2 separate regions of the Homo sapiens genome follow, and region 1 is linked to region 2. The links come from fine-mapping of genetic effects on gene expression. A gene starts in region 2. The other region holds a variant in brackets. All regions are shown on one strand. Distances are between the middles of the regions.

Region 1 (15,772 bases), 22 kb after region 2:
GTCAGAGTGGTCTCGAACTCCAGACCTCATGATCTGCCCGCCTCGGCCTCCCAAAGTGCTGGGATTACAGGCGTGAGCCACCGCGCTCTGCCAAGCTTTCTTTTCATTTGCTGATTTATTTACTGGACCTGCATATTGGGAATGTGACTTCTAACTACATATTTTTAAAATTCCACTCCAACCCACAGAACTTGGATGCCCCCCTAGAGTTCATTTTAATGGAATTTTTTTCTTCTGTTGTGGTGAGAAAGGAATTCTGGTGTTACATTTAAGTCATTACCACTTGGAATTATAGATTATATCAGAGTTTTCCCAAAGAGTTTTAGCATGCCTGTTGTTTTAAATTTGAAAGTCTTTTATATATGCATAACAGGAAACTTACGGAAATCTGAAGGTCATCCTTCTGGAATCTGAGTATAAAAGAAGACCAATTCAGTTATTAAAGTGAAGTAAAAATGCAGTTCTTTCTTTTGTAATTGGCGTTAATTCAGTTGTACAAATTTTATTTATTTTTTATTTTATTCCTTTTTGAGATGGAGTCTCTCTCTGTTGCCCAGGCTGGAGTGCACTGGTGTGATCTCGGCTCACTGCACCCTCCACCTCCTGGGTTCAAGCAATTCTCCTGCCTCAGCCTCCTGAGTAGCTGGGATTACAGGCGTGCACCACCATGTCCGGCTAATTTTTGTATTTTTAGTGGAGACGGGGTTTCACTATGTTGGCCAGGCTGATTTTGAACTCCTGACCTCAAGTGATCCACCCGCCTCAGCCTCCTAAACCGCTGGGATTACAAGCATGAGCCACTGCGCCCAGCCACAGATTTTAAAATCTATATTTAACTATTCTTAAACTGAAATGTTGGAGAAAATTCCTTGGTATTATATCATACTCATTATCATACTACTAGCAATAATTTCTGCTTTGTTCTGTTCAGGAAAATCCAAGAACGTTTAAGTAAATTTTAATTCAATTGTAGTAGGACTGCCCAACCCATCTGATACATAAACAACAGGTGAAATTCTTTTTTAAACCCAAAATGAAGCTCTGCTTGTGAAAATGATTAACATTTTAAACAAGACAGCTTTTTTATTTTTGAGACAAGGTCTCACTTTGTCCCCAGGCTAGAGTGCAGTGGCGTAGTCATGGTTCACTTCAACCTTGAACTCTTGGGCTCAAGTGATCCTCCTGCCTCAGCCTCCTAAATAGCTGGAACTACAGGTACACACCACTGGGCCCAGCTAATTTTTAAATTTTTTGTAGAGATGGGGTCTTGCTTTGTTTCTGTATTAGTCAGGGTTTTCTTAGAGGGACAGAACTACAGAACTAGTAGGAGATATATATAAAGGGGAGTTTATTAAGTGTTAAGTTACACGATCACAAGGTCCCACAATAGGCTGTCTGCAAGCTGAGGAGTAAGGAGAGCCAGGTTGATTCCCAAAACTGAAGAACTTGGAGTCTGATGTTCGAGGGCAGGAAGCATCCAGCATGGGAGAAAGATGTAGGCTGGGAGGCTAGGCCCTTCTCTCCTTTTCACTTTTTTTGGCCTGCTTTATATTCACTGGAAGCTGATTAGATTGTGCCCACCAGGTTAAGGATGGATCTGCCTTCCCCAGCCCACTGACTCAAATGTTAATCTCTTTTGGCAACACCCTCACAGACACACCCAGGATCAATACTTTGTATCCTTCAATCCAATCAAGTTGACACTCAGTAGTAACCATCACAGTTGCCTAGGCTGTTCTAGCCTGGCATCAAGCAATCCTCTCACCTTGGCCCCCCAAAATGTTGGGATTACAGGCATGAACCACTGTACCCAGCCCAAGTAGGATTTTCTTTGAGCAGCATGTTGGCACTCAAAAAGTTTCAGATTTTTGAGCTTTTTGGATTTCAGATTTTTAGATTAAAGATGCTAAACCTGTAATTTGTTCTTTTTTGATACAGTGCATTGGTTATGAGAAAGTTTGCCACCCACATTGATATATTTTGTTGTTTTACCTTGTGTCTTAAGTGGATGAATAACCCTTTTTAATAAGCTGATGTGGTAGAAATATCAAATTAATAAGAATCTGATGTAAATAGTTGAGAAATCCTTCATCCTCTCCTTAAGAAAGTATTTTAACCTTGCAGGCTGTAGAAAATCTCTGTTCTTACAAGATTTCTGCAAACTTGTACAAACAGCTGAGACAGATCTGCGAAGATCACATCAAAGCACAGATTCATCAATTCAGAGAATATCCTTTTTAAAACAAAAAATCGTGAATAGTTTTGTCTTCCTCTCTGTCCCTACCCCTCACTGTTTAACCCAGCTTGAAGTAGAATGCCTGTATTTTGTAGGTTTGTCATTTTTTGTGCCTTGTGTTTCTCGAGAAAGAAACACATTTTGACTTTTCAGCCTTAATTCGTGTCCAGGACTACGTGTGGTATTCATGTAAATAAGATGTCCTTATGTCTTTATCCTTTTTGCCCTATCAGATTTCCACTTGAGGAAAAATAATCTCCTAAGGGAAATAGTAAACTGAAAACACGATGTTCAGTTATGTCTAAGACTTGTTTTTAAAGGTGTTTTTTAGTATAAACTATGTTTTTTTTTTCTTTTACAAATTAGGAAATAGCACTTTGGTGCATAATCAAGTGCCATTTAGTTTCACTTAGTGTGCAAGGTATTCATGTTTAAGACTAATATGCTCTCTGTCACATGGCACATATGACTTGTACCAAACGCTTTAAAATATCCTTAACATATGTTTCAGGGATTCATTGGATAGCGTTCTTTTTTTAAAGAAGATTGATAGATGCTGGCAAAACCATTGCAGACAAATGGTAAGCTGGAAAAAGTATTGTATTTCGGCTAAACATTGTATTAATAGTTAAAAACATTTCTTCAAATACAGGAATGTTAGTTTTTAAAACTTAGCAATAGGGAGATTGCTTCAATATCTATTCCTTTTCTTTTTTTTTCTTTTTTTAAAAATTTATTTATTTTTTATTTTCCCGTAAGTTATTGGGGTACAGGTGACATTTGGTTACATGAGTAAGTTCCTTAGTGGTGATTTGTAAGATTTTGGTGCACCCTTCACCAGAGCAGTATACATTGCACCATTGTAGTCTTTTATCCCTCGCCCCCCTCCCACTCTTCCTCCCAAGTTCCTTTTCTGAATTGGAAACTAGTTTTGGTTGAGTTTTCTATTTTAAAACCACAAGTTACAGGTAAACCTGCATTTCAGAATGTCTTGCACCTTAGGTTCATTTTTATTTTTGTCACACTTACCAAAAATGTATTTATCTCATTCATTAAAAAGCTACATTTCGTCTGTCACTCTTATTTTTTTTTCTCTCTTGATGATTATCCTGTCCACTATTTGATTACCTGTGAAGGTGCCTGATGGTCCTGTGTTTTAGTTTATTCAGATAACAACCTTTTCCATTTTTCTTAATCTGGTTTATACCTTATATTCTACAGATTAAAATCTTAAAATCCATCACCCCTCCCCACCCCCACCCCCTGCCAATAAAAACCCTCACATGTGCAATGTAAGGCAGCTTCATTCCCTAGCACTGTGGCGCAGGAAGAATTATATGAGCGTCCCCTTGATTTTTCAGTTACTTCTCAAGCAGTAAATCAGAGGGCCATTTTAAGTGTCTTTTTTCTAGAAAACACAAAAAGGATTGACTGTTGAGTAATAAAAACTATATGGGCATATTCTCAGATAGATGTGTTTATCTGCATGTTTGATCTTAGTAATGTAATATATATACAGACAAACTCTTCAGTTTTATTCTTATTGAAAGCAAATATTTCAGCTTCACAACATACAAAACTTGTTTGATTTCTTTTTTTTTCATTGGCAGATCATGATCAGGAGCATTTTTTTGTTTCTGGATAGAACTTACGTTCTTCAGAATTCAATGCTACCCTCCATTTGGTAAGGATGCCAGAAAAATATGAAAAGATTGTTCCAAATCATACTCAAATCTTAATTACACTAATGAAAGTGTATAAGCTATACTGTGAATATTCTAAAAATTCACATTTGGTTCTAGACTTTCCTTTGTAGCAGTTTTATCTTCCTAATAATATGTTGCCTATGCTAATATTGAAGATAGCTAACATTCCCTGGGCATATATTAATTTATGAAGAAGTTTTTTGTTAGCCGAGGGGACTAAAGTTTGCTCTGGAATGTCTATGATTGTGATTCATTTTGCTGCTGACCATCAAGAGTTCACTCATTTAACATTATGCAAAAGTCCATGTATACACGAAAATAGAATAGTATCATGAACTCTTCCCCCTCCCATGTACCTATCATCTGCCTACAGCAATGATCAGAATTCACTGATTCTTCAGTATTGAAACCAGTTGATAAATAACCAAATAAGCTTTCAATACCAGTACAGTGAAAACTGTTTTATGTCTTAGAACTAATTTTGTCTGTTGATTTGAGCAAAGAAGAAATCCACAAAAAGAAATAATACAACAAAACTTAGTTATGGAGGAAAATAGGAATTTAGCTTCAATTCTCAGTAAAGGCAAAATGAGTTTCCTGTGTTCTTTAATCTAATAATGTTATTCAAAATTAAATGTGTGGATTTTATTTTTTGACAATTGCTGCTTCAAAGCCCTGGAGCCCTAATTAGCATGGGAACATGTGGTAAGAAGTTAAGCAAACCTCTTCAGAAGTGGTATTGTCAATTAATTTAGGTTATATGTGTTTTTTATTTTAGGGACATGGGACTGGAGTTATTTAGGGCTCATATTATAAGTGATCAGAAAGTGCAGAATAAGACAATTGATGGCATTCTTCTCTTGATTGAGAGGGAAAGGAATGGTGAAGCAATTGATAGAAGTTTACTTCGAAGCCTTTTAAGCATGCTGTCTGATTTGCAAGTAAGTTAACTACTACACCTACTATACAGAGCTGATTGCTATCCTAGTTTTTTTTCCCCCCACATCAGACAGGTAATGTGCTGATGTCATAACAAGGTTTGAAGGAAGCACATCTCATATATGAGCATAAAAACCCAATCATCATGCTTCTCAACTACAAAAGGATCCTAGCTTGATGTTTAAAAACCAAATTCATAATGCTGTTTACATAGACATAGAGGACATTTAGTAAATATTTGCTAAATAAATGATCTCCTTCATTTTGTTCCCCCTCCAGATTTATCAAGATTCTTTTGAACAACGATTTTTGGAAGAAACTAACCGGCTCTATGCAGCTGAAGGCCAAAAATTAATGCAAGAAAGAGAGGTATTTAAAAATCATGACTAATAAATTCTCACTGTCTCTCACAATAGACCTTACTTTGTAGAATATAAGCTTCCCTTTGCATTTATCTTCCCAACATTGTGATGCTCTTCTCTCACTTAGGTGCTCCTTTCTTTTCTCTCTTCTTAAAGGCCAGAATTCTGGATCATAAACTCTACCTATAAATTTTTACATATGATTCTACCCTGTCACATTTGACAGGGCCACTTCCAGGATCTTTTGGACTTGACATTTTCTGAATGATTTATGGGGAGGAAAACAATAATGTAAAAAACTATCTTTGTAGGTTCCTGAATATCTACATCATGTTAACAAACGTCTAGAAGAAGAAGCAGACAGACTTATTACTTACTTAGATCAGACCACCCAGTAAGTACCACATGCTGAATTTAATAGTCTTAAACTGTCGTTAAATCACTTGCAGCACTTTAGCCATCCTAAACATGTTAGTAACTGTTTTCAGGTGTGATTTGAAGTGTTAACAGTTGTTTTCATAATACAAACTTCAAGTTATTCTTTTCCCTAGTTAATTAGTTTTCATCCAAGGATTCGATTATTAGGGGTGTGTGTGTGTGTGTGTGTGTGTGTGTGTGTGTGTGTTTAGAAGGTAATTTAGAAATAATACTAGAGGCTGATGTGACCTTTAAACTCTTCAGGCCAATTAAAATTCAGTGGATTCCCCTATTTCTGTGCTTTCCTAAGTATTAATATTGCCAGTCGAGGGGCCTCTGTATGTAGTACTTCTTTACCTTCCTAATAAAAGTAGCAAAACTTGGAAAAAGCCGACTACAGCAAGGTCTTGGAGATATTTATTTCGTTATGTAAACCAAATTCTAAAATATGCAGTGTTTTTTTAAAATTTTTGCCTGTCAGTTCCTTTATGTCTTTTTCTTTTAGGCATAAAGTATAGTAACTCTGAGCACCAATAAATTTATACATAGGATAGGAATCTTGAAATCAACATAAAATGAGCTATTTGATTTTTTTCCCCCCTCAGGAGAGGCTTTACATTTTCTGGAAGTCAAACGTCAATAATACTAACCTTTTTTTTTTTCCTTGTAGGAAGTCATTAATTGCTACTGTAGAAAAACAACTTCTAGGTGAACACTTAACAGCAATTCTTCAGAAAGGTAATTGGCAATTTGTAAATAAGAGATTGCTTTTTAAATGGTAGTGGCAAACTAGTAGGGAATTTTTAAAGATGTTGCCCTTTTAAAAGTTTGATAGCATGTGGCTGCATTTCTGAGGATGGACACAATCCTTATTAATCACAGTAAACTTCCTGGAGGTGCCAGTTTTCTTATCTGAAAGATACAGGAACTAGAAGAGAGGGATCCACAAATACCAATAAAAAAACAGTGGTTGATATGTGCCTGTAGTATCAGCTACTTGAGAGGCTGAGGCAGGAGGATTGCTTCAGCCCAGGAGTTTGAGGTCAGCCTGGGCAACATAGTGAGACTCTCGTCTCTTTAAATAAAATAAAAGAAAAAAAGTGGGAAATTCTTGACTTAATATGTAAGCTTTCAGTAAGGAAAGGTATTCCTTTTTACACTAAAGCGGTGAGGGTTTTTTGTTGTTCATGGCATGTCAAACCAAGCACTTCTAATCCCAAGTGAATTTAGAGTATACCCTACATTTTACTTTGAGAATGCCGCAAATAGGTAAAAGCCTTACCTTTCTCCCCAATAATATTTTCTTTTGTATAAAAATTTATATATTTAGAAATTTAATGCAGTTATACTGTTATTTCATCCTGGAAATCAAATATTTATTAGAGCCTCATTTAAATTTGACCTATTTATGCATGGCTTTTGATATATCACAGGCTATATCCAGTATTCTGAAATATAACTATGTACATAATATGGCTACTACATATATGAGGTATTTATAATGTATATTTATGTAAGCCAGTTTTTATAAGTTTGTTTTTGCCTCTAATCTATCATGCTAAATGGCACAAACCATTATGGAGTTAACCATTTTTCTTTTTCTTTTTAATTTTTTTAACTTTTTGAATTAAAATAGAGAGGGGGAGGGGGTCTTACTGTTGTGCCCAGGCTGGTCTTGACCTCCTGGCTTCAATTGATCCTCCTGCCTCAGCCTCCCAAAGTGCTGGGATTACAGGTGTGAGCCACCGTGCCTGGCCTGTTTTTATTTTTATAGCGACTAAAGTCTCTATATTTAGTTTTTACCCAGAAAGATGGTTGGGTTTAATTCAAAGGAAATCTTACATTACAACTCACATACAGACTAGTCATAGTTCAAACCAGTATCACAATAATGATTATAACTCAAATTTTATTAAAATGTCTGATAATCTTGTTCACTTTTTTGTTCACTATATTTTAATGCCAAAATGTTTTAAAATACAGGTTTAAATAACCTCCTTGATGAAAACCGAATTCAAGATTTGTCTCTTCTGTATCAGCTCTTCAGTAGAGTTCGAGGTGGAGTTCAGGTTCTTTTGCAGCAGTGGATCGAATATATCAAGGTATTAACAATTTACCTGTGATTTTTCTCTCTTATGGCTTATCTACACATCAAGAGTGCATATTGGCAAGCATTTCTTGTTTGATCCAATTTTTTTTTTTTTGAGACAGAGTTTTGCTCTCGTCACCCAGGCTGGAGTGCGGTGGCACGATCTTAGCTCGCTGCAACCTCTGCCTCCCAGGTTCAAGTGATTCTCCTGCCTCAGCCTCCCAAGTAGCTAGGATTACAGGCATGCACCACCATGCCTGGCTAATTTTGTATTTTTAGTAGAGACGGGGTTTCACCATGTTGGTCAGGCTGGCCTTGAACTCCTGAACTCAAATGATCCACCCGCCTTGGCCTCCCAAAGTGCTGGGATTACAGGCGTGAGCCACCACACCCGGACTTGATCCAGTTCTTTTAAGGGAATTTTAAATTTGTTTAAAAAGTAATGGGAATTTTGAGAACAGTCAACCTGAGAATGGTAGCTGTGTGGCATATCAGCTATAAAACCTGATTGATGGCTGACATAATTTCTGTCTCTACCACTTAAAGCAGTAAATGTAGAAAAAGACTTTGAACCCCAAATTTCTTTCCTTTCTTCAATCTTACACTAAAGCCAGATTGCCATTTTAAGGAAGTTGAAAGCTGACTTCTTTAAAAATAAGGAAAAGATCCCAGAGGCTTCTAATAATACCCTGTTATGATATCATATGCCCAGTGATCATTGCTTACTATTTTTGTGATTATAGATGAGTGGTTAACAGTGTGGATATTTAGCACTTTATTTTTTTGTCCTCATTTCACTATCAGCTTTATTTTGCCAGGTGCAGTGGTACATGCCTGTAACTCCAGCTACTTGGGAGGCTGAGGCAGGAGGATCCTTTCAGCCTAGGAGTTTCAGACTAGCCTGGGCAACATAGCAAGATTCCATCTTAAAAATAGCTTTATCTTACTTTTTAAAGATCTTTAAATATATATGCCACTTAAAATATGATTTGGGGATTGTTTTCATTGTAGACAATTCGATTACAGTAAAAAGTGGTAATTTTTTGTTTTAGGCATTTGGCAGCACTATTGTAATTAATCCTGAAAAAGATAAAACCATGGTTCAAGAATTGCTGGATTTTAAAGATAAGGTTGACCATATAATTGATATCTGCTTTCTGAAGAATGAGAAATTTATCAATGCCATGAAAGAAGCATTTGAAACGTTCATTAACAAAAGACCAAATAAACCAGCTGAACTTATAGGTATGTTTTCCAGTCCTTTTTCCAGTTGTTTAATGATGTTCTTTGAGTCATAAAATCTCAATCTGAAATTTTTACCAGGTTGTAGTATTACTAATTCCTGATTTGTTTGAGGTTGCTTAGCTGGTATATCAAGTTTGAAGAGTGTTTCTAAAAACCTGGATGTAAGTACTGAAAGCCCACATGTCAAACATAATGTGCTTTCTTTCAAAGACAGTACGTTGGACACTATTTACCTTTATTGATAATAAGCTAATCTGTTTTCCTAGCCTAATGATTTAAAAATGAGGCAGGGTGTTATTTCAAGCTACAAAAAAGGGCAGCATGAAATTACAGTTGTCAGTGAAAAAGAAAAAAGTCCAGGGCAAAAATAAACCTAATAATCTGGGCCCATTTAGCATAAGGATGTGATATACACTACAGTGCTTCTCAGGTTTTTCCACCCAAGTACCCTTAGTGTCAGAGGAGGAGGTAACCTGAGAAGGTCTAGGGTCCTCTGCCAAAAGGATGAAATTTTGTTGCAACCTATCTACTATGTATCCGTAAACATGTAGCAAATTTTACCTTCTACTCTACGATGTATCTGGTTTATTTTAATAGAAAAGTAATGTTTAAGATTGCTTACTATTCCTATAAAATGGATACTCCAGAAGATTCCTCATGTCTTTTCGTGGCTTGGATTACATGATGCCCTCACAGGGCTACATGAGACCTCCCCCACAGGATATCCGTATCCTATTTTCATAAACATCAGTATAGTGGGAAGTACATTTGATCTGGAGTCAGAACACTTGGGTTTGTGTTCAGGCCCTGATGTTATTAGCTCTATGGCACTGAACAAGTCAGTTGATCTTCCTGACTTTGGAGACTTTTAAAAATGCATATAAATTTCTGAAGTATTGAAAAACTCAGTGTATCATACTCCTCTTTGGGTATATATAGTGCCCAGTACCTCGTGTATTCCCCGGTTATTAAACAACAAACTTTTCCCCCATTTTAGCTAAGTATGTAGATTCAAAACTTCGTGCAGGCAACAAAGAAGCTACAGATGAAGAACTTGAGAAAATGTTGGATAAAATTATGATCATATTTAGATTTATCTATGGTAAGTATTTACTAATGTTTTAATATTTTTCTTTTAAAATAGCACTCAACAGAGAAGCTAGCAAGTATATTCAAACTGGAGGGAATATTTATTTGGAAATTACAGATTTAAAATTGTGTTTAATTCATTGGGGGGATACGTGAGGAATGTTACCTGATTGTCCTATGCTTTGGCTCTTCTAGTATTAAGTGCCTTGATTTTTGCTACTTGGCTTAATCTCTTAAATATTGGCACCAAAGCTACCAGTCCACAAAAGCTTTTCTGAAGAAAAGTTAATGCAATCAAGACAGTTACATGCAAAAAAGTTTTACAATAAAGACTTCGAAATGTCTGGCACAAAAATGGATCTCTACTGTTTCTTGCATTTAACAAACTTAAATAAAATGTGTAAAGTAAAATAACTTGGAATAATGGTGTGCTTTATTAAAGCACTTTAAAGCAGTTTTGTCAGTACTTTTTATTGGAATATTATAAATTTTGCATTTCTTTTTACATAGGCAAGGATGTTTTTGAGGCCTTCTATAAGAAAGATTTAGCCAAGCGCCTGTTAGTCGGAAAGAGTGCATCTGTAGATGCTGAAAAATCAATGCTGTCCAAACTTAAACATGGTAGGTTTCTCATTCTTTCTGTTCCTTTTCTTTGATTCCTGAAGGAGAATGTTAGCTTTTTACCCTTTCAATCGATTTCCTCTTTTGTCACTCATGTCTATGTATATATGATGAAAACATAAATTGAGCAAGCTCCTGAGGTTTCCAACTTATTGTACATAATATCCAGAGTTGTTTTTTTTAAGATAAAGCATTGTTCTTGGTTTTATTATTTGTATAAAAATTTCCCATTTATTTTATACCTAAATAGTAGATAAGGTTACTACAGGATTAAAGAGTTTGACTCTGAATTAATGGGGCATACACTTTGGGGTAAGGATTTCTTTTTATTCTTATGAAAGTTACAGATCATACTTCATACTAAAGTTTTGTATTTCGTGTTTCCCACTTTTAAACCTCTTTTGTTTTTACCA[C/T]TTTAAAATATTATACATGTACAAACATCTTTAATAGAATGCGGAGCTGCTTTCACCAGCAAACTTGAAGGAATGTTTAAAGACATGGAACTTTCTAAAGACATCATGATTCAGTTCAAACAGGTAAAAGTGAGTTAAACTCTTAATTCCTCAAACTTAGTTGTATTTAGTTATCTGCTTGCTATGATTTGTACTAAAGAGGATAAATAGAAACGTGTTTGTTGTAATTCATGGCAACTGAGGTGATATTCACAGTAGAAAAAAAAATTGGTGAAATATAAGTATATTTGACCTACTTTAGGATTTATTTTTGACAAACACCCAGAATAACACAAAAATAAAAATAAAATGTATTGAACTGAAGTCAGTACAAGAAGAGCTATAGTGGGAAAAGGGCTTTCCTCAGCATCTTATCGTTTGGTAATTTGCATGTTCAGAGCTTGCAATGGGGAGAGAGGAGAAGTGATAATGCAGCTGTATAAAAGCCTTTGGGGACATTGGGGATAGAAAGCTAGATCCACAGTTTTGAAGATGTAGGTAGAAAGTAGTTTTGAAATGTTTAAGATCATAGGTGATAATGATGGCAAATTAGATTTTCCTCTTTTGGGTTTTAGTAGTGACTTCTTTACCCCACAGTGTTGCTAAGGTGGGAAGTGGAAGTGAAAGAATTAAGAAAAAATCAGGGTCAGTAAGATTATGGATTCTATAGTAGCTACAGAATAGGGCTTATCTGCTTTGCCCTTTTCCCCTCTTTTTCCTTCCCTACTCCAGGTCACTCCCTGCAGACAGGCAGTGGAGCAAGTGAAAAACTGGAGACTTGGGCTGGCTGGGGGGTGAGGAATGGGGGTTGCTGCAAGGTGTTTAAGCCACATAGGGGTATTCAAAGGTGGGGACTGCAGGTGGTATTGGGGAAAAGAATGGAGAAGAGATCCTATAACGGCCCAGCTGTATGTGAGAAATTATTTAAGTTGATAACGCCTGTAATGAGGTCATGTGATCCTTGTATGCCTTTGTATCAAAATGTTAACCTCTGTACTTGCCTAGTGCATTTTGTGTAGGTTTCATTTAAAGTCTTCTTAATAGTTGCCTTTTATTTTAAGGATGGTCAGTGTTTGCATGTAATTTCATAACAGGGAACTTCTTAAATAGGTTATTATGATATGAAATGTATGCAGTTTTAAGATCTCAGTGTGTGTTTTGATCTTCTTATAGTATATGCAGAATCAGAATGTTCCGGGAAATATTGAGTTAACTGTGAATATCCTGACAATGGGCTATTGGCCGACATATGTGCCTATGGAAGTTCATTTACCACCAGAGGTAAGAGTTACTGTTTAGAACTGAGTTATAGGCATAGAAATCATAGCATTTCCATTTTGCTTGTCATTTAAAAATAGATACTTAGAAAAAAATAGAGACCCAGGGTCTCGCTGTATTGCTCAGGCTGGTCTTGAACTCTTGGGCTCAAGTGATCCCCCCCGCCTCAGCCTTCCGAAGTGCTGGGATTACAGGTGTAAGTCACCAGGCTTGGCATGGATACTTTTAAAAGTGTATGTCAGTAAGCGCACCAACACCAAATACCAACTGCTTTAATGTTTTACTTTTGTACTTAGAAGTCCAGTTAAGCACATAGCTAATAATGCCAAATTTCTGGGTTCAGGGTCAATTTCCCTGGCTCTTCTTCCATCTTCCCAGGTTATACCCCTCACTCTACCTAGCTATTAAGAATTCTTGCACATATTTCACCCATAGGTGGGATTGCTAAATGATGGGTCCTTGATTAAATCTATCCTGACTCCTGGTAAACTGTCTAGTCCAGGACTGAAGCCCATAAAAGGGATTAAGGCTAGACAGATAGATATTGAGAATCCTCCATGGAGATGATTATGAAGGCCCAGGGAGTAGATTTCTCTCAAAGAGGAAGAAAAAACAGCAGAGGCAGAACTTTAGAAAAGGCTCACATTTGGCAGATGGTAGAAAGAGGAACCTGTGAAGGAAACCAATGCAGAAGCAACAGTGAAATAAAGGAAGCAGCATAGTGCAGAGGCACAAAAGCTGCTGCAGGTGAATGTTTCAAAAGAGGGGATGATTAAATGTTCAGAGAGAGCAAAAGGTATAAATCCTAATAAATCCCATTTGATTTGGTGGTTGGGAGATCATTGTTTTTCATCAAAGTGATTGGTGGACCTACTGGATATAGTCTTAAAATTTTCCAGAAACTATATCACATGAGGTAAGTATAAAAATGGTAAATGTGGTATTGGATACAGAGCTTAAATAAAGCCTTATTTTATTTACTTTAGATGGTAAAACTTCAGGAGATTTTCAAGACATTTTACCTAGGCAAACATAGTGGCAGGAAACTTCAGTGGCAGTCAACCCTAGGACACTGTGTGTTAAAAGCAGAATTTAAAGAGGTAAGTGGATGTTCCCAAAACTTTTAGTTTTCATCTTTATCTTTAATGTTTAGGTCATCCTTCTTAACTGAAAGTTTAGGCTATTGTTTTTTGTTTTCTTCTTTTTTTTTTTTTTTTTTTTTTTTGAGACAGAGTCTCACTCTGTCACCAGAGTGGAGTGCAGTGGCGCTATCTTGGCTCACCGCAACCTCTGCCTCCTGGGTTCAGGTGATTCTCCTGCCTCAGCCTCCCGAGTGGCTGGGACTACAGGCGTGCGCCACCATACCCAGCTAATTTTTTTTGTATTTTTAGTGGAGACGGGGTTTCACCATGTTGGCCAGGATGGTCTCTGTCTCTTGACCTTGTGATCCACGCGCCTCGGCCTCCTAAAGTGCTGGGATTACAGGTGTGAACCACCGCATCTGGCCAGTTTAAGCTGTTGTTTTATAATTGTATCCTAGATATCCGCATGATGACAGTGATAGTTTGTCATAGCTTTATGTATTTTTAAGTAATTTTAGGTGTGTGGTCTTTCCACGATTGATTTGGCCCTTCTGCAAAATGAAAAGCAGTGAACTTTCCCCCTACCCTTTCCTCACCTGTGGATGAAAACTGTACACTGCCACTTCCTATTTTTATTTATTTGTTTATTTTTAGAGATAGGGTCCCACTCTGTCACCCAGGCAGGAGTACAGTGGCACAATCATAGTTCACTGTAACCTCAAACTCATGGGCTCAAGCTATCCCCCTGCCTCCGCTTCCTAAAGTGCTGGGATTACAGGCATGAGCAACTACACTTAGTCTAACACTGCCACTTCTTGACAGAAATCTTGTTGCTGGGAGCTACGAATAGAGTGGGAGTTAAGGGAAACAGTGTGCAATATCTAATCTCAAAAAACTTTAGCTTTTCATGACTAATCTGAGCCAAACAAATCAAAAATACATTTGAAATAGTGATTTCTTGCTGCTTGTGATGAATATCTAGAATGACACATAAGGCTGATTAATTTTCATTACTGTATTCTATTTATAAGGCTTAAAAAAAAACTGTTAAAAGGTCAGCTAATCCTTCCCCCTATTTTAGGTAGGGTCACACCTAAACCTCACACTGAAATACTGTATTACCACGTCAAGTGGCTTTGCTGGATAATGCTAATCATGTTTCTAAATCCACTAATTGAAAAATGCTTTTCCTATAAGAGATGATTAATTTTTCATGTGTTTTTAAAAAAGTGATGACTAAACACTTTTATTTCTTCAACAGGGTAAAAAGGAACTCCAGGTCTCTCTTTTTCAAACACTGGTGCTGCTAATGTTTAATGAGGGAGAGGAGTTCAGTTTAGAAGAGATCAAGCAGGCAACTGGAATAGGTTTGTAGCAAACATTAATTGTTCACTATGTGCACACCACTATGTTAAGAGGTCTGGGGGACATATTTATAGGAATAATTCCTTGCCTCAGAACTGTTTTGAGTTTTTTTTTTCTTTTTTTTTAATGAGACAGGGTCTCACTCTGTCACCCAGGCTGGGGTCCAGTGGTACAATCATGGCTCAGGCTCAAGTGATTCTCCTGCCTCAGCCTGCCAAGCAGATGGGACTACAAGTGCATGCCACCGTGCCTGGCTAATTTTTAAAATTTTTTTTTGTAGAGACAGGGTCTCACTATGTTGCTTAGCCTGGTCTCAAACTCCTGGGCTCAAGGGGTCTTCCTGCCTCAGCCTCCCTAAGTACTGCAATTACAGGCATGAGCCCCTGCAGCCAGCCAGAACTCTTTTTTTTTCCCCTCAAGACGGAATCTTGCTCTGTCACCCAGGCTGGAGTGCAGTGGCGCGATCTCGGCTCACTGCAACCTCTGCCTCCTGTGTTCAAGCAATTCTCCTGCCTCTGCCTCCCGAGTAGCTGGGATTACAGGCGCCTGCCACCACACCTGGCTAATGTTTGTATTTTTAGTAGAGACGGGGTTTCACCATGTTGGCCAGGCTGGTCTCGAACTCCTGACCTCGTGATCCGCCTGCCTCGGCCTACCAAAGTGCTGGGATTACAGGTGTGAGCCACCGCGCCTGGCCAGAACTCTTTATATAACCATAGGGAAAGGGGGAAATGACACTTGAAATAATGTCAAAACCCATAAGTACTGGCTTGTGGTACTGACTATAAGTGTGGTAAGAGTGCAACAAAGCAAGAGATCACCGTGGACTGGCACAATTGGGAAAGCTGTCATGAAGCAAGTGGCATTTGAGCTGGGCCTTCAAGTTTTGGT
Region 2 (11,943 bases):
CCTTTCACTCCCTTTGCCTGGCTAATTCCCACTCACTCTCGGGGATTTAAATTGGATTTCTTTCTCTGGAAGCTATTCTTAATTCCCTTCCTCCACTGCACCCCACCTCACCCTCCTAGGCTGGGCCAGGTGTCCCACCTCTGCGTTCTCATAGTGGCCTTTGTCACTCTGTCTTGTAATTGTCTGCCTTACCCACCAAATATATTACTTGGTAATAGAAACTTCCCAGCCGGGCGCGGTGGCTCACGCCTGTAATCCCAGCACTTTGGGAGGCCGAGGCGGTTGGATCACAAGGTCAGGAGATCGAGACCATCCTGGCTAACACGGTGAAACCCCGTCTCTACTAAAAATATAAAAAGTTAGCCGGGCGTGGTGGCGGGCGCCTGTAGTCCCAGCTACTCCGGAGGCTGAGGCAGGAGAATGGCGTGAACCAGGGAGTCGGAGCTTGCAGTGAGCCAAGATGGCACCACTGCACTCCACCCTGGAAGACAGAGCGAGACTCCGTCTCAAAAAAAAAAAAAAAAAGAAACTTCCCTAAGGTGAGTGATAATTTAAAAGTTGGGCATTTAGGGATAGCTCTAAACCTACATTGCCAATTGAGAATGGAGGGCAAGGGTTGTCTTTGTATACTAAGGGAGTAGAACATGATGGGTCTGCCGGCAGGGTTCCTTCACTGTTTTCCTGGATTTGGCCAGGAGAAGCAGCCAGTTTCTACCTCTTGTGAAGATCAGCCACTGGCTGAGGGTCCAGCCAGAGAATAGACTGATTCTCTAGAACAAGATTGCCACCATATCCTTAAATGTGCATTGCCGGCTGTTTTGTCCTACCTGCTTGATGGTGGCCTGAACTGCATGCAAGCTTGGTCTCCTTTTGGGCATTTTGATTTAGCTTATCTCAATAAAAGAGTTATTTTCTTATTCTTCATTTTTTTCTCTTGGTGAGTGGGGCTCTGAACGTCTTTTTCTAACATGTCTACTACTTGAGACTATTTTATGGCAAGTCTCCTTACGAAATTGTAAACTATGGGAAGTGCTGTATTTGGAGTCTGTGAAGAACTGGACTTAGGTCTGTGTGCTTTGTGACTTTAGCAAATAATTTTAACTTCCTTTGCTGAGCCTACTTCTTATCTGTACAGTGGGGATGGTACTTGATCTATCTCACAGTGTGTTTATCAGGATAAAATAAGATTGTATGTGAAAGTGCTTTGAAAAACTGTGAAATCAACTACAAATTGAATTTTGTGTTATTCTGTATTCCCTCACGGCATCTAGCACCATGCGTTGCTGAGAGTATTTGCTCAATATATTTTTGTTGAATGACCAAAGGAATTGGAGAGAGAAATAATGCTGTTGGTGGGAATAAAGGACATTTAGTAATAGAAGCAGGAAAAATACATGACTTGGTAATAGAAACTTCCCTGAGGTGAGTGATAATTTAAAAGTTGGGCATTTAGGGATAGCTCTAAACCTACATACCCAATGTCTGCTCTCTGCTTTGCTTATAAAAAATATTTAAATTTTCTTTTAGTATGATTTTGGCAGCTTAGATAAGCTGTCAAACTTGATTAGGTTTTAAATATGCAGTCATCAAAAAGCAGGATTGGCCCTAGGCAATACTGTGAGGTCAGCAAAATGTACTCTCAGAAATCTTTCCTTCCTGGTTGGTAACCTCACCTCTCACCACTCCCTATTGCAGTGGCTTCTTCTAGTTCTGTTTACCTCCAGTCTCCTAGGACTTTCCTATTAGCTTTTTTCCTCCAAGAGGCATTCACCTTAAAGGGTTAGGAACTAAGACTCCTTGGCTAATTTGCACTTTAAAAAAGGATTCCTAGAGAAGGAGGCAATGTGTTATCCAAATGAGTGAATAAATAATCATGAAATTTCAGGCATTAAACGGAATACAAGTGCTTATCAGCCCCATTCAAATCACAAGACATACTTACTTCATCTACAACTATGGTTTCTCAAACTTGGAGGTATGTAGAATTTCCTGGAGAGCTGTTTTTTTTTTTTTTCTTCAGAGTCTTACTTTGTCACCCAGGCTGGAGTGCATTGGCACCATCATAGCTCACTGCAGCTGGAACTCCTGGGCTCAAGCAATCCTCCCACCTCAGCATCCCAAAGTGCTGGGATATGCCAGCACATACAGCTAATTTTTTTTTTTTTTTTTCGATAGAGACAGGGTCTCGCTTTGTTGACCAGGCTGGTCTTGAACTCCTGGCTTCAAGCAATACTCCTGCCTCGGCCTCCCAAAGTGCTGGGATTACAGGCACAGGCATGAGCCACCGCACCTGGCCAAGAGCTTCTTAAAAATACTGATAATTGAGGTCCTCCTCACAGAGATTCTGATTGAATTGGACTGACTAGGTTTGGACCTGGGTAAAGATTAAAAAACAAAAAAAACTCCTAGGTCATTCTATTGTACAGTGAGTTGGGAACCCTGGATTTAAATCTAAATTGGCACTGGGTGCAGTGGCTCATGCCTGTAATCCTACCACTTTGGGAGGCCGAGGTGGGCGGATCACCTGAGGTCAGGAGTTCAAGACCAGCCTGGCCAACATGGCAAAACCCCATTTCTACTAAAAATACCAAAAAATTTAGCTGGGCATGGTGGTGCACACCTGTAATCCCAGCTACTTGGGAGGCCAAGGCAGGAGAATCACTTGAACCTGGGAGATGGAGATTGCAGTGAGCCAACATTGCACCACTGCACTCCAGCCTGGGCGACAGAGCCAAACTCTGTCTCAAAAAAAAAAAAAAAAAAAAAAATCTAAATTGGCCTTGTCTGTGAGAAAAAGAAAAGCTGAATGCCATTAGATCAAACATTGAGCAGGGTGGGGTTGGAGGGACTTTGAGAGACATCGATAAAGTAAACAGAATGTTAAAAATAGGCCCATGCCATGGCACATCAGCTCGCCAAATATATATATAGGCCCAGCAACTCCATAAGCAAGTCCTTGGCAGCACCCAAGGGAGAAGTCATCTGTGGCTGCTCTGGCTCCCCACTCCCAAACCCTCAGGGAAAACAGCCTATCTCTAACTTTTAGTCCTTAAATCTGCTTTCCAGATGGTTCACAGGTATGACAGATAAAATCTCTGAGCTAAGGAACGAAGTGCTTGAATGGTTGATGTACCAAGTCAGTAACTTCAGGCGATGTAAGATAAACAATTTTGCTAAAAATATGAAATTTGGCTGGGTGCGGTGGCTCACACCTGTAATCCCAGCACTTTGGGAAGCTGAGGCAGGCAGATCACCTGAGGTTGGGAGTTCGAGACCAGCCTGGCCAACATGGAGAAACCCCGTCTCTACTAAAAACACAAAATTAGCCAGGCGTGGTGCTGCATGCCTGTAATCCCAGCTACTTGGGAGGCTGAGGCAGGAGAATCGCTTGAACCCGGGAGGTGGACGTTGTGGTGAGCCAAGGTAGTGCCATTGCACTCTAGCCTGGGCAACAAGAGCGAAACTCCATCTCAAAAAAAAACCCAAATATATATACATATATATATATATATATATATATATATATATATATATATATATACCTATACACACACACATACATATGAAATCTGTTATCTATTTACATTTTACTTAGCACATAGGTTCAGCACATGTTATTACTTTCCTTGCTTTTATATAGCAATCTCAGGATGGGAAACTGATGAATTCACATTGTGTAGTTGGATTATTTTTGCTTGAGCTTTGGCCTCCTCAGCAGCCCATTGGTGTTGATAGCATAACAAAGCCCTTATTATGATACAATCTTTACTATCTCAGCATTGCTTAGTTTGCCTTCTCTGTACTTTCCTGCTTCAAAGATGATCCTTCAGAAAAGTGGATGAAGAAAATGGACTGCCTGGGCCGGGCGCGGTGGCTCACGCCTATAATTCCAGCACTTTGGGAGGCCGAGGCGGGCGGATCATGAGGTCAGGAGATCAAGACCATCCTGGCTAACATAGTGAAACCTCATCTCTACTAAAAATACAAAAAAAAATTAGCTGGGCGTGGTGGTAGGCGCCTGTAGTCCCAGCTACTTGGGAGGCTGAGGCAGGAGAATGGCATGAACCCGGGAGGCGGAGCTTGCAGTGAGCTGAGATGGCGCCGCTGCACTCCAGCCTGGGTGACAGAGCGAGACACTGTCTCAGACAAAAAAAAAAAAAAAAAGTAAATGGACTGCCCTTTACCTAGCAGTTTTTTTTTTTTTTTTTTTTTTTTTGCACTCTGTCACCTAGGCTGGAGTGCAGTGGTGCAATCTCGGCTCACTGCAACCTCTGCCTCCCGGGTTCAAACAATTCTCCTACTTCAGCCTCCCAAGTAGCTGGGACCACAGATGTGCACCACCAGGCCTGGCTAATTTTTGTATTTTTAGTAGAGACAGGGTATCGCCATGTTGCCCAGGCTGGTCTCAAACTCCTGGCCAAGTGATCCACCCACTCTGGCCTCCCAAAGTGCTGGGATTACAGGTGTGAACCACTGTGCCCAGCCGTTTTTTCTGTTTTGTTTTGTTTTGGTTTTTGCTTTTTGTTGTTGTTTGTGTTTTTTTAATGCATTCTCAGAAACATCTTCAGATTCTCCTGGGCAAGCAGTCTCTCCCATTCCTAAGGAAAATCCCACCCATTGGATAGGAAGGCTTCCAGGAGTGTCTGTCTAGTGGCAAGCCACTGGTATGAGATATCTGGAGAGGACCTAAAGCACCCCAGATGGCTATAACTGTATGGCGTCCTACATTACACATCTTGATTCCCCAAGCACCCTGGGGAATCCCTGTGATCAAAAAGGGGAAATGGGTTACACTCTGCCTTTTTAGGGAGATGTCCACAGAAATAAAGGAATTGACATTGTAAAAGCTAGCTCCCTGTCTTTGTTTGTATTTCTTCCTTTACACATATACTTACCTTTATAAACAGCTTGGTTAAAGGTGGCCAATAATAACTACACTTCATGTGGCAACATTGTAAAGTTTAATTAATGTTTCTAAGGTATGAGTTGAACTCACAAGATGAAAGATCCTAAATATGGAATATGTGTTAAGTGCCCAGTCTGGTTTAGTCTGATAATGGCTATAATTGTATGGTGTCCTACATTACACATCTTGATTAGTGTGGCTCCCGTGAGTTCAACCTTGAAAATGTATTTTAATGTTGAGAATGTGTTTAACGTTGATTGGCAAACATTTGGGTGTACAGAATATACGCTTATGTTCTTCAACTAGCCTCAATTAGTTGGTTCTTGATGTAAAAGATATTTTACAAACCAACTTGGAAGGTTTTTGTTTTTTTTTGAGACAGACTCTTTCTCTGTTGCCCAGGCAGGAGTGTAGTGGCACAATCTCGGCTCACTGCAACCTCCACCTCCTGAGTTCAAGCGATTCTTCTGCCTTATCCTCCCGAGTAGTTGGGATTACAGGCACCTGCCAACGTGCCCAGATAATTTTTGTGTTTTTAGTAGAGATAGGGTTTCACCATGTTGGCCAGGCTGGTCTTGAACCCCTGACCTCAGGTGATCGGCCCGCCTCAGCCTCCCAAAGTTTTGGGATTACAAGCCTGAGCCACCTAGCCTTGTTTTTTGTTTGTTTGTTTGTTTTTTGTAACAAGGTCTCACTCTGTCACCCAGGCTGGAGTGCAGCAGTGTGAGCTTGGCTCACTGCAACCTCTGCCTCAGGTTCAAGGGATTCTTTTGCCTCAGCCATTTGAGTAGCTGGGATTACAGGTGAACACCACCATGTCCGGCTCATTTTTGTATTTTTAGTGGAAACGGGGTTTCACTATATTGGCCAGGCTGGTCTGGAACTCCTGGTCTCATGTGATCCACCCATGTTGGCCTCCCAAAGTGCTGGGATTACAGGCATGAGCCACCACGCGTGGCCAGATCTGTGCTTTTTAAAACCAACATGTAACTCAGAAGACTGAAGGGCTTAGATAACCATGTGAGATAGGGAACTATTATTACTAGAATGTAGTTAAATATTAACAGGACTCAGCTATCATTTAGGTTAGTAGAAAAGTTTATCTTTGTATGGCAAAAGCAGCTTTCTCTTATCTTTATGTCCATTCCCTTTCAGTTGCACTAATATTTGTAATTTTTTAAAATGGCTAGCACTTCATATACCCTCCTAAAGATTTTAACTACATGAATTAGAACAACCTTGTTCATTAAATCCTGAAAATGAGTCAGTTAATCCTCCCTTATAAAGACACAGCATTATTTTATTCACATGCAATGAAATACTCAATTCAATAAGCATTTACCCTGCATTTACAGTGGTTCAGCATTTTGTGAACTGTGAGACACGATAAAGGAAAGTTCAATGTATTAAGGTGTCTTTCCTGGCCTTAAGAGTTTACTGTTTCTATTTGGGCAGCAAGAACTATATGGTAGGCCCAGCACTTTGGGAGGCTGAGGCAGGCGGATCACTTGAGGCCAGGAGTTCGAGACCAGCCTGGCCAACATAGCAAAACCCTGACTCTACTAAAAATACAAAAAAAATTAGCAGGCGTAGTGATACATGCCTGTAGTCCCAGGTACTCAAGAAGGCTGACGCACAAGAATCGCTTGAACCCGGGAGGCAGAGGTTGCAGTGAGCCAAGATTACACCACTGCAGTCCAGCCTGGGCGACACAGCAAGATTCTGTCTTCAAAACAAAACAAAATGAAAAAAACTATGTGGTATATTCAAAACAGATAGGAGTGCTTCCATCTGTCTCCTTTCAGGCCCCCATCTCCCTTCTCAGCGGTTCTAAGTTCCATTAGAGCCTTGCTTTCAGCAGGCTGTCATCAAATAGCAATGATATTGTCTAATAATGCCAAAGGTTGATTTGCATTTTAATCAGGGACTTTTCAAGACACAAAAACAAGTGGGCCTGTTTAAACAAAGTTAGAAAGTTGATTTATTTGCAGGGTTCTGATTCACCTATCACAAGGTATACCATACAAGCTGCTTTTACTCCACTCACAATCCTGTCACCCCTGGTTTGTAAAAGCTCTGCTTGCTGGATTGTCTCCCTGCTATCTATGATCGCCTACAGAGTAGACTCCAAATTCTTGGCTTGGTGTGCCAGGCACTTTTGAGCCTCATCTTCCTTACTCCCAGCCAGACATCCTACTTCCCAGCCTCACTGCACTTTCCATGTTTCCATAAACAGGCCTGGCCCTTTCACTCCTTGCTTTGCCCTTGTTTCCGTTCCCCAGAATGCCTTTCATCCTGTTCCCTCTTCTCTTTTTGGCAACTCCCACTTTGAGACACAGCATAAACATAATCTCTGTAGAACTCTTCCTATTCCAGATTTCTCCCAAATTTCTTGTTTTGCCTCTTCTGACAGCACTTTGTATATATGTCATATTATTGTTATGGAAATTAGTTTTGAAACTATCTTCCCCTACTGGCTTCTCAAGGGCAGAGACCTTGCATAGTCTTACCATACATGCTAACTGAATGCTTTTGCAGTTAGAATGATCAACAGGTTGGCAAATTTAGTTTTTGATATTGTGTTACCTCCCTCTGAGAATGCCCCAAGGTTAAGTAAAAACTCCCAACAGGGAATTTACAAGGTTTATTGTTGCTAATTTAACCAAACTTAAAGATTTTTTAAATCAATAATCAATTGTAAAGCATGGGGTCATGAAACACATTAGTAGAAAACACTGACTTTTGCCGATATGGTTCTAAAATGTCTCCTTTGGGACAGCGTGTAAACTGAGATTTGGCAAAAGAAGGAAGTGGGTCTTAGCTTTGTTGGGTCTATAAATTACTGAGTTAAGGACTGATAGAGTGGGGGTTAGGACGATCCTGGGCATAGTGCTGGGTGGGTGAGGGGTTAGTTACCTTTCCATTTCTTCGCCTTAGAATACACACTTAATTTGGCCAGCCAGCTTAGAAAATGCTCCTGGTAGTAAGATAAAAGGATTTACAGCTACATGAAAGAGAAAGGCATCAAAATTCAGGCCTTATTCAGCCTTGGGTCTGTGGTGCCTTGAGATAAAAGAGAAACAATTTATACCGGCACCGAATTAAAAAGTCCTTTTCTTCCTATCTTAGCTCGTTTTCTTCTCCTTTCCTATCTTAACATAGGGACATTCCTCTCCAGCAGCGGGCATAATGGCATGATTATGTTTTCCTCTATTTAGGGTTACTCCCCTAGCCTTGCAACCACTCCTTATTCTTTCATCTCTTTCAAAGTTTCTATTCTCCCGGACCCTTACGTTTTATTCCGTCCCTCCCTCTCTCCTCCTCTTCCTCCTCCTCCGTTTTCCCAGCTAGCTCACTCCGCCCCTCGCCGTCACTACCTTCCCTCCCCCGAGGCTCCTTCCCGCTCCTCCCGCCACCCCCCCCACCCCCTCGCCTTCAGAAAGCTCCAATCAGGAGCTCCGAAGGTGTCTCGAAGGCCCGCCCCCTCCTCCTATCCACTTTTCTTCCCCCCAATTTCTCCCTCCCCCCTTCCCCCCCCCACTCAAGTCCTGCGGACCTGGGGGCTTCGGGATCTGGGCGCTATGAAAAGTGTCTGCCCAGTCACTTCCGGTAAGGGCGCTGCGGCGCGAAGCTTCCCGCGGGACCGTTAAGGAGGGAGTGGGAGTTCCCGGTGGGCCAGGGAAGGAAGGCGCTGCCAGGAAAGGGGATCGCGAAGGGGAGCGGGAGCAGGAGCGAACTAGCGCGAGCGTCTGGGGCACTTTAGCCGCCCCTTTCCAGCCGCCCCCTCACGCGCGAGCTCCCCCGCCCCCCGGGCGGCTGCAGCGCTTCCCTCACCCCCACTCCCTGAGGTTGACACCGCCCCTCCCTCGGCGCCGCGTGACCGGAAATGGCGCCATCTTTAGCCTCTTGTGCTATTGACAATAACAAGCCCTGGTTCTTTCCCCCTCCCCCTTTCCCCCAACCACAGCCTCTCCCCTCCCAGGGAGAGGGAGAAAAGGAGGAGGAGCTGCAGCCTCACAGACTCGCTGAGTCGCTCCTGCAGAAAGGGGGGGAGAGAGATCGAAAAGCAGGGGAGGGGGACGGCACGGCCGTTTACCTGTCTGCCTCCTCATTCGCTCTCCCCCCTCGTTCTGCTCACTCCTGGTGTCAGCCTATCCGCCTTCCCAAACCCTCCCATTCCCCCGGTGTAGCCCCCCCCTTCACTTTCCTTCTCGTCCTCTGTGTTTCTCCTCTCTTCTTTCTTCCCTTCCCCCTCTAGCATTGCTACCTTCTCTCCTACACGCACGCAGGCATATAAACGTAGGTTTTTGATGCTCCTCTGCCTGTTGACCCCGCTATTTTCATGTTTCCAACAGGTTTTTCTTCCCCCAGTCCCTCAGCTGCTGCTGCTGCTCAGGAGGTCAGATCTGCCACTGATGGTAATACCAGCACCACTCCGCCCACCTCTGCCAAGAAGAGAAAGTTAAACAGCAGCAGCAGTAGCAGCAGTAACAGTAGTAACGAGAGAGAAGACTTTGATTCCACCTCTTCCTCCTCTTCCACTCCTCCTTTACAACCCAGGGATTCGGCATCCCCTTCAACCTCGTCCTTCTGCCTGGGGGTTTCAGTGGCTGCTTCCAGCCACGTACCGATACAGAAGAAGCTGCGTTTTGAAGACACCCTGGAGTTTGTAGGGTTTGATGCGAAGATGGCTGAGGAATCCTCCTCCTCCTCCTCCTCATCTTCACCAACTGCTGCAACATCTCAGCAGCAGCAACTTAAAAATAAGAGTATATTAATCTCTTCTGTGGCTTCGGTGCATCATGCAAACGGCCTAGCCAAATCTTCTACCACCGTCTCTAGCTTTGCTAACAGCAAACCTGGCTCTGCTAAGAAGTTAGTGATCAAGAACTTTAAAGGTAACCAAGGCCAAAATCCATAATCACCTAATAAGGATTTGACACTCGAGGGGTCACGTGCTCTATTTATGTTAATATATTAAACAGTTTGGAGGTGGCCTAATGTTTTATGCATAATCAATGAGGTGGAGGGGAGGTCCTTTTTTGGTGGAGGGTTCATTTTCCGGGGGTGGTTAGGATCCTTGTGCTGAAGCATACACCGGGTGTTTCTGTGCAGTATTTTGAGGTCTTTTTCAACCTATTGTATTTAATCTGTTATTCCTTATAACACTGACAATCGGTATGATTGATCCGGATTTTGCAGGTGAGAAATTTGTATTCTAAAGAGGTTTATTTATTTCAGGTGCATAGCGAGCCTTGGCATTGCTGGGATTTTTATTTTTATGCTTCAGTAGGCCACATTATCCAATGCCTAGAAATGCAGGTAGCAATAGTGATCTTTTTATGCTCAAATAAGATTTATAATTAGATTTATACTGTATTCATGAAACTCATTTGGAAGGAATATTTGAAGAAAAATTTATGTTCTCTGCATTTCTTTCCAAAGGTAGGGTTTGAAAGTGAAAAACATTGTGTATACACAGAAGTAGTAACTCTGTGTACCACTAGTCTAAAGATAGGAACAATTACTACATCTATTTTTTCCATCACTAAAATGGATTTTAAAGTATCGACCTGCAGCTTTTAGGAAAATTTGTTCAGACCGTGTTTGAGATATGTGAGGAGAGTATTATGAATACATTGAGGCAAATATAAAATCAGCAATTTTTAAAAATGTATTTGAGCTGAATTAATTTTTATTTGTTGAATGTGTTTCTGTTTTTCTGACTTACTTTTTCAACACCCGTAACTGCCAGGTAATCAGTGCTACAGTGTTTATTAAATAGAGAAGTAAATGAATGAACTTAAGTAATATTTATGAGATAAGTGCTTTGTGGCTGAATATTAGTATTGAGAAGATTAGGTTCTCTATGCTTGTGTTTTTAACATTGTGTGGAAATCAGGAGTATGCTCTATTTTGTCTCAAGCAGAGGGCTATGGTGTTGTCTATTTTTAACCCTTTCTTTTTTATATCACTACCTTCCCATACCCAGGCTCTCAGTTTCTGATTTAATAGTAGAGCTTTCTGAAGTCAATATGAATTGTAATTGAGTAACGTTTTCATTATTTCACTTAAAAATATATGGATTTTGTAGCTAAAGATTTTTAAATGAGTTATGATCCTGGTTGCATTTTCAAATTGGTTTCAGAGATTTTTTTCTCTCCCTCCTAAAATAAAAGCATATTATTAAGGCATTTGGATATTCTAATTAAAACTTTTTTCCCCACACTCATTGCTAGTCAGTGAAGTTTAAAGCCTAGAGTAAGATGTTTCTTTCTATTCTGAAAATGCAACATGGTTTCTGGAGTCATTTCTTTCAGTCTTTAAAAATTTCACTCTGCTCGTAAATGTAGTTTAAAACCTGAGTTAAGATGTTTCCATTTCTATAGATGCTGCATAAATGTGGGGGTCAAACAGACCTGAATTAGAATCCCAGCTTTGCCATTGACTAGCTATGATGACCTTGGGCAAGCTTACTAAATGAGTTCCAGCCTCAGTTTCCTCGGTTGTAAAATAGATTCCTCAGGGTATTGTTGGGAAGATTAAGAGGCTTATAAAGTACCTTGCACATAGACAGTACTTTAAATCTCAGGTTAAAAATTCATGTCGACTTAGGTTTTACACATGATGAAATAAGATCAGGATTGTTATTTTTTATGGTCATTCTTGAATTTTTATTTTTTTGAAGCAATACAATCAATAGGAGAAAAACCTCACCTTCAATTTTAATAGGTGAGTCAAAATGACTTAAACAGTATTATGGCATTTCAAATTTTATTCTTTATATTAAGCTTAAATACAGTGGTTACTTTAATGATTAGGTGTAATAGTTATAAAGATCACAATTTACCCTAAAATTAGTAATGCTATTATATTTTATGAATCTTTGGTTACTGTATCTGACATGGTATTCTGATGCCAACCTTTTACATATCATCTAGATAAGCCTAAATTACCAGAAAACTACACAGATGAAACCTGGCAAAAACTGAAAGAAGCAGTGGAAGCTATTCAGAATAGTACTTCAATTAAGTACA

Evidence for each region. PIP is the estimated chance that this variant, and not a neighbour inherited with it, causes the effect.
Region 1: its variant is the best candidate, but not a certain one, in a credible set for the expression of CUL4B in whole blood (TOPMed, PIP 0.56).

Annotation. Positions count from the first base shown.
Region 1 is chrX:120,533,592-120,549,363 of GRCh38, reverse strand. It overlaps CUL4B (cullin 4B), which reads left to right. Exons shown (of 20, transcript NM_001079872.2): 3 at 2,125-2,228; 4 at 2,748-2,817; 5 at 3,847-3,920; 6 at 4,721-4,883; 7 at 5,161-5,250; 8 at 5,555-5,637; 9 at 6,331-6,398; 10 at 7,644-7,762; 11 at 8,802-8,994; 12 at 9,992-10,096; 13 at 10,594-10,704; 14 at 11,155-11,240; 15 at 12,330-12,437; 16 at 13,421-13,534; 1 more. LOC124905273 (small nucleolar RNA U13) reads right to left here and starts at 5,049; the gene lies at 4,946-5,049. The variant C/T (reference allele first, on the strand shown) is at 11,118.
Region 2 is chrX:120,557,944-120,569,886 of GRCh38, reverse strand. It overlaps CUL4B (cullin 4B), which reads left to right and starts at 8,925. Exons shown (of 20, transcript NM_001079872.2): 1 at 8,925-9,804; 2 at 11,848-11,943. The coding sequence starts at 9,249. RefSeq lists silencers at 8,276-8,325, 8,626-8,705 and enhancers at 8,086-8,970, 8,679-8,973, 8,971-9,856.